Linked DNA regions of Homo sapiens. The protein of the gene in region 1 interacts with the protein of each later gene in a pairwise test. Each region holds a gene or a part of one and is shown on either strand. Other genes may lie near its edges.

Region 1 (3,829 bases):
GCAGGTCCCCAGGACAGGGTCTGTGCCGTGCCAGACATGGGAACTGATACAGGGGCAGGATGTGGCAGGCCTGGCGTCCCCATACCACCAGTGGTGGCCACTCTGCTCCCATGACAGGAAACTACGGCAGGAGGACCGGTCAGTTTCCTCCTTATATAACAGACTTAACACCCTGGGCTTCTACTGTCAACATTTTACACTGGCTGCGGGAGCCGTGGACACAGCTCCCATGGGTCTGGCATGGGGCTGTACCAGTTACTAGGAATGTGTGAATATCTTATTCCTCGGCTCCGTCACCTTGAAGATGGGACTAATAATCTCCTTGGTGGATAATGGTGAGGAAGAAAGGACAGGTTTCCTGGCACAGCAGGGTCAAAAGTGTAGATACATGTTCACACACTCTCTGCACTGTTCCTAGGTGAGTCACCTAACCTCCCTGAGTCTCAGTTTCCTCACCTATACAATGGGGATAATATTAAATCTTCCACACAGGATCAGCATAAGGATTAAGGTAAGGCACCAGGCTAACACTGCCACCACCATCCAAAGTGGCCAATGGATGGGGCCTGGCTCAGTCAGTGTTCACTAAATATCATGTGACCCTTATTTCTGTTCAAGGTCAACGCTAGTGGGTGAGTCTGGGGCCTCCGTGGGCCCACCCCATAGGACCACAGGCCGTCACCTCACGATAATAACAGCTCATGTTCAGACTTCCTGAGTTGAATCTTCCCCTCACCCATTTACCAATAAGGAACAGACAGACACAGGCAAGTTAAAAAGACCGGTGAGGCAGGATCTGAACCCACATGCGCAGCCACGGAGCCATCGTGCTTCTTGATGGCATGTCTTTGGTGGCCCATCAATTAGCTGGGGTGAGGCTCTGGAAGGAGTGCCCTTGCCCCGGCCAAACTGCACAGGGCAGGTCCTGGGTGCTGCGCTTGTGTCCAGGCCGGAGGCTCCTCGCAGGGCACCTGTGCTGAGCCTGTGCTTGCTGGCGTTGCAGACTCCAGGGCTAGAGGAGCTCGAGTGTCGGGCGCTGCACAGTGCCCTTCCTCTCCTGGCTCCCAAGTTCTGACCTGCACTTTTGGAGGAAGTATTTCTCCTCCCCAGTGGGAGGAAAAACAAGTTGCATCTCTTTACAAAGTTAATAGTTGCCATTTGCTTTTTTCCTTTCTCATCTTCTGAATTCGGACTTGTGTATGATTCAGAAGCTTGAAGCTGTGCAACTGGAGCTGGTGACAACTCTGTGCTTTGGCTGTCAGTCTAGAAATGGGAGTCGCCCTCTCTACTTCAGTGATGAGGCTGAAATGAACATTGAAGCCCCTGTCCCAAGTCAGCCCTTTCCTGGCCACGAGCCCCCACTCCCCGGAGCACTGGCTCTCGCCGGGCCCCATGCTTAGGAGTGAGAGGTGGTGCTCAGGAGCCCCCAGCACACCCTATTTTAAAGTTATATCGCTGCTTAGAAATGAAAATAAGACACTTTTATTATTTTTCTCTTGAATTCTGAAAACTTCAAACATGCACTTATTGACAACTGTGCGTTTACTTCATAAATTAGTTCGGGTCACAGACACTTCACCTGAATCTGGTTTTCTTGGGTATTTTAACCTGTCAGAGGCCAACCACAGGTACCTTCCCCCGAATATTGTAAGGTTCAGAAAACAGCTGTCTTGTCCACAGGCGACTTCAGACTCCGGGAGTGGCCTAGCAGGCTGCAGGCCCTGTGTCACCTGGGCTTCTCGGTTGTAAGGCATGCACGCAGGTGCGAGGGGATACCCTAAGGCTCTGTGGCCCAGGGAGAAAATGCCCCATCAGCTGAGAGGAGCCCTAGTCTACAGGAAGCCCAGGCCCCATCCCTCAGCCTAACGGGCCTGCGCAGCAGTAGCCCCCGGGCCTCCAGAACGTCCCGTGGGCCCTTCCCAGTCCCTGAGTGAGTGTGGCCACTGAGACCACCAGAGCCCCCTCTGGTTCAGGACCACCCAGCTTCCTGCTGCTGCTGCTGCTTCGGCTGCTGTGGCCTGCGGGGCTGACCACCCCTCCAGCAGCAGGTATTTAAATGGAAACCAATGGCTGTGAGCCCGTGATGCAGGGTAAGATGTAGGCATTTTAAGGTCATTATTTTAATTACCATTAAAATAATTGGCACTCCGGCTATCAGAAGAATGGAGGCGATCAGAGGCGCAAGGCGCCCCTCCCCCACCTCGGGGCGGGAGCAGCCTTCAGTGTCTGTATAATTAAAAGCTCCGTCTTTCATGAGCACAATAAAGGGGCCGGGGGTGGGCAGACTGCAGCCCTGCTGCATGTTAATGCGTTTATTATGATCAATAAGCCCTTGCCTTGAGTTTTGTCCTCTGGTTTGGGCATCTGCGTGACTGACAGCAGACACACACACACACACACACACACACACACAATTTGCCCAATGGTGTGGACAGCTACAAGTTCAAAATAATTTGGAGGTTAACCATTCTTAGGGTCTCAAAGCACAGCCTTTGGGACTAGACAGGCCTGGGAGGGGTACTGGCTAGCCCTTGGGAGCCATGCGGCTGCGCACCCCTTACTTGCCCCAGCTAAACACCGTTCTTCAGCTCTAACGGGGACAACGGGACCATCTAGTTGCTCTGAGGATGAAGTGCCTTCATGCAGACAGACTGTGGAGTGCGGAGCCTCAGTAAGACTGCTTTCTTGAGAATAACACACCATTCTCTCCCCTGCAGTTACGAGAACTGGTCAGCATGTGCATCTGCCCTGACCCCCACCAGAGACCTGACATCGGATACGTGCACCAGGTGGCCAAGCAGATGCACATCTGGATGTCCAGCACCTGAGCGTGGATGCACCGTGCCTTATCAAAGCCAGCACCACTTTGCCTTACTTGAGTCGTCTTCTCTTCGAGTGGCCACCTGGTAGCCTAGAACAGCTAAGACCACAGGGTTCAGCAGGTTCCCCAAAAGGCTGCCCAGCCTTACAGCAGATGCTGAAGGCAGAGCAGCTGAGGGAGGGGCGCTGGCCACATGTCACTGATGGTCAGATTCCAAAGTCCTTTCTTTATACTGTTGTGGACAATCTCAGCTGGGTCAATAAGGGCAGGTGGTTCAGCGAGCCACGGCAGCCCCCTGTATCTGGATTGTAATGTGAATCTTTAGGGTAATTCCTCCAGTGACCTGTCAAGGCTTATGCTAACAGGAGACTTGCAGGAGACCGTGTGATTTGTGTAGTGAGCCTTTGAAAATGGTTAGTACCGGGTTCAGTTTAGTTCTTAGTATCTTTTCAATCAAGCTGTGTGCTTAATTTACTCTGTTGTAAAGGGATAAAGTGGAAATCATTTTTTTCCGTGGAGTGGTGATTCTGCTAACATTTTTATCTACGTTTTATAACTTGGTGAGTGACGATGAGAGCCCTGCACCTGGCCAGAGTGTCACAGGCAAAAGGCATCGGGAAGCAGGAGCATCTTCTTGGCAGCCAGGCTGGGCCATCTTCTCCTGGACACCTGCTGTGTACCAGGAACTTCGTCACCTCCTTGAATGCTGGCGGTTCATTTCATGATCAGTGTTAAGCATTTTCCTCCATGGGAAGGAAGCATGGGATATAGAAAAGCGAAGGGCTGTCCTTTACAAATTCTGGTTCTGCAACTTCCTAGCGTGACTTTGGGCTTGGGCAAGTTTCTTAGCCGTTCTGAGCCTTCATTTCCTCATCTGTACAATGAGATTAATAGTACCTATCATCTACCTTCAGGATTGCTGACAGACAGAATTTGAAATAAAATATGCAAGTTAGCTAATACAAAAAGTAGATGATCCAAAAATGGTAGCCACTCACCCTTCACAAA
Region 2 (3,530 bases), on another chromosome or scaffold:
GGCTTGGCAAGCCTTTCATGAATTTCGAGTGGGCCTTATTGCGTTGTATATTTGTAGAGCAATGCACATCTATACTTCTCATACCTTGTGGGCAGATAATCGCCAACTTCATTAAAATTAGGTAGCAGCCAGAATTTTCTTGGTTTCTTGCTTCCCTGAAAATTCTATCACTACTAGGAAAATGTGTTAACTCAGTATGTTTAAATTTTTAGCATTTCTGTCTCTGCTCGACTCCCGTCTCTCTAGTTTTCATCACTTACATTCTCATGCTTGTTGGAGAAAACCCAAATCACACCCATTCCCATAACCCTAGTGATAATCACTCTTAACATCATGAATTAATTTCCTTTCACTTTTTCCTGTATAAATTTTTTATGACATCATACTGAACATAGTTACATGATACCAACTTTTATGCCATCCCTCTTTCTATGAATAGAAACTTTTTACATGCTTCTATTGTGTAAGTTTTGGGTGGGCATTATTTTGTATAAACTTTAAAATATTTAACTGTAGTCTGCATATCTCCCTCCTAGAGATGGAACTGAGGTTGGTTTTGCAATGACTGATAACCACCTAGAATTTTGGGTAAATTCCACAAAAGGTCAAAGGATATGAAGAGTTTTCTAATGAGTTCTCAATAATACATAACGCCTGTTACATAATGCCAGAGTGGTATAATATGAAGAGCATACTGCAGCGCCAACAGCAGTGAGTACGGGCATGTACCACATAATGATGTTTCAGTCAATGACGGACCACATATACAATGGTGGTCCCATAAAATTATACTACTGTAATTTACTGAACCTTTTTTGTGTTTAGACACACAGATACCACCATTGCATTAAATCTGCCTACAGTATTCAGTACAGTCACATGTACAGGTTTGCAATCTAGGAGTAGGCTCTACCATATCAGTTTGTGTAAGTACACTCTATGTCTGCACATAGACAAAATCGTCTTATGACGTTTCTCAGGCTGTATCCCCGTCGTTAAGTGACATGACTTTCTCTACCCAAAGCCCTAGAAGTGCTAGATTGATTTATGCTTATTTTATAGGTGTGCTGTGGTACATCAGAACCTTAAATGTGCTTCTCTACTTACCGAAGTTGACGTTTTTCCCCTCAAGTGCTGGTTACTGAAGTCCGCTGTGAATGGTCATACCCTTGACCTGCTGAAGCCTTTGCACCCTCCTTTCCTGCCAAGGAAACCTCTGTGCTCCTTCTCTCCTTTGCTAGCTCCACTTCAAGAGAAAAGCTTTCTGAGATTCTGTTCCTCAAAGGTCACATACAGCTAACAGTCGTTTCGTCTTTCTGGGATTGAAACCCAGCTTCATAACTTACTACTTGTTTGACCTTGGTCATGTTTGTTATCTACTCTGCTTCAGTTCTGCATTATAAAAGTGAGGATTTGCTATCTAGCTCCTGGGGATGAAGTCTGAATGAAAATGGATGCACCTAACAGTGCCTGAAATCCTTATTTCACAAGGGCTTGTCAGGTCTGCTTTTCCAATTGGTCCTGCTTGTGAGAATGTGGAGGAATCTCTCAGCCCCAGCTCTCTTCAGCCAAGGAATCAAACATGTATTTTTTTCTTTTATAAATTACAGCTTTAGACTTAGTGAAGTTTGCGTATTTATAAGCCTCTTCTTTTAGGGTACAACTGAATTAAGGATAGATTATGGTCTTAATTTTTCCATTCTCCTTAAAGTGGTGGCAACTTATAAGTATCCAAAAAAGCATTAATGGTACAAGTTCCATATATTTTTTAAAGTTTGTAGTAGTAGGGCTTAAATAGAATATGGACATTTCATGACTGCTAAGTTTGACTCCCTTACTTCTGTTAGTCTAGATAAGTACATGCCTCATACTGTTGGCTACGGTCACAGCACATAGCTTCCTTCATTGAATACAGAGCCAGCAGCCCTCATGCTCTTTACTGATGAAGGCCATTCCACTGCAGCACTAGGCTAGAGCCCATGGAACATGAGGCGTTTCTCTGCTACCCCAGCAGGGCAGGAGGAACCATACACACAGCAAGTCCTTACCTTTCATCTTCTTTTAGCTTTTTATTTTCCCTGTAGTGAAGCAACCACTTCCATCTTCCATTTCCATTTAGTTTTTCCAGGATTTTGATAATTTCCTTCAGTTGAACTACAAAACAATAAATGTAGCAAAAGAAGATGACAAGTTTAAGGTACTTTTGGCTCATGCCAAGCCCAGTGATAATTATTTGTAAAACAAGAAAAAAACAGACTAAGACCCATGGTTGAGTACACACCATCACTGTCACTTATGTGGTTGGGCAGCATCCTGCTCTCACAAGCCCCTCAGCCTGGTCCCACCTGCTCACACTATGGTGGGAGATAACTCTGTAGACACGAACACAGTGGAGTGGTCACCAGCAACTAGAGTTCTGTGTACAAATTGTGTGACAGAAGAGAAGCAGGAGGCCCCGATGCAGTAGAGAAATGAAGTTTCTAAATACAGAATCCTTTTTTTTTGAGACAGGGTTTCGGCTGTCACCCAGGCTGGAGTGTGGTGGCATGATCTCAGCTCACTATAGCCTCAACCTCCTGGGCTCAAGTAATCCTCCATCCTTAGTCTCCTTAGCTGGGACTACAGGCACACACTACCACAGCTGGCTAGTATTTTTATTTTTTGTAGAGATGGGATCTCACTATGTTGCCCAGGCTGGTCTTGAACTCCTGATCTCCAGGGATCCTCCTGCCTTGGCCTCCCAAAGTGTTGGGATTACAGACGTGTGCCTACAAATATTTAAAATCCCAGGTTCTGTGTAGAAGTCACACTGGTTAAGGTACATGCTGCTTTTGATCTAGAAGTGGTATCACTTCCAATGTGATCAGAGCCGGGGCAGGTTTTATACATAAAAGTGCCCTGAGAGAAGTAAAGTATGAGTTTTCAAGTAGATGATTAAATAAGCTGACTTAGTAGCCATTTTTTAGATTTTTGTGACATCAAGATGGTAGGGGTGTTGACATCAGAAATGGAGAAGGTTGACTTTAAGCAAACAATTTAATATGGAGCTGCTCTGACTTGGCAAGTGAAGAGACTAAATATAATAAAATCCTGAATTTGTGTTACTAGGAGCTTAGCTGCACTACCGAGAGGGAGGGAACTCAGAAGCAAGTGTGGTGGTAAGAATCAGTTAAAAGAGGTGAAAAGCATTGCTATAAGAGAATCACTGTATGAAAAGAGCACAGCAGACAGCAGAAATTATGCCTCAGTAGGGGGCAACTGATATTCCTTAGAGTTGATCATTTCTTTTGGATGAAACAGTATTTAGGTCACTGGGTGAGAAGTTGATCTGACTTCAAAGAAACAGGAAAAGAAAATAAAGACCAACCTAATGTTACAGCTTCTAGTATCTTGTCATCTGATATCACAAAGCCTCCTGCACGAAACAGTTCTTGGTAGGTGTGATCAAGAACATCTCCAGGGCTGTCTACTCCAGCAAAGATGACACTGGGGAAATGCTTCAGCTTCAGCAAAGAAGGAATCTGCATGAC

The links.
Region 2: the proteins of NEK6 (region 1) and TASOR2 interact in binary tests that used the Homo sapiens proteins (3 or more experiments, as listed by UniProt).

The regions. Positions count from the first base shown.
Region 1 is NC_000009.12:124,348,120-124,351,948, forward strand, and holds part of NEK6 (serine/threonine-protein kinase Nek6), read left to right. Parts: intron 1-2,717; coding exon 2,718-2,828; 3' UTR 2,829-3,829. UniProt on the Homo sapiens protein: Protein kinase which plays an important role in mitotic cell cycle progression. Required for chromosome segregation at metaphase-anaphase transition, robust mitotic spindle formation and cytokinesis.
Region 2 is NC_000010.11:5,757,511-5,761,040, reverse strand, and holds part of TASOR2 (protein TASOR 2), read right to left. Parts: intron 3,522-3,530; coding exon 3,368-3,521; intron 2,155-3,367; coding exon 2,049-2,154; intron 1-2,048.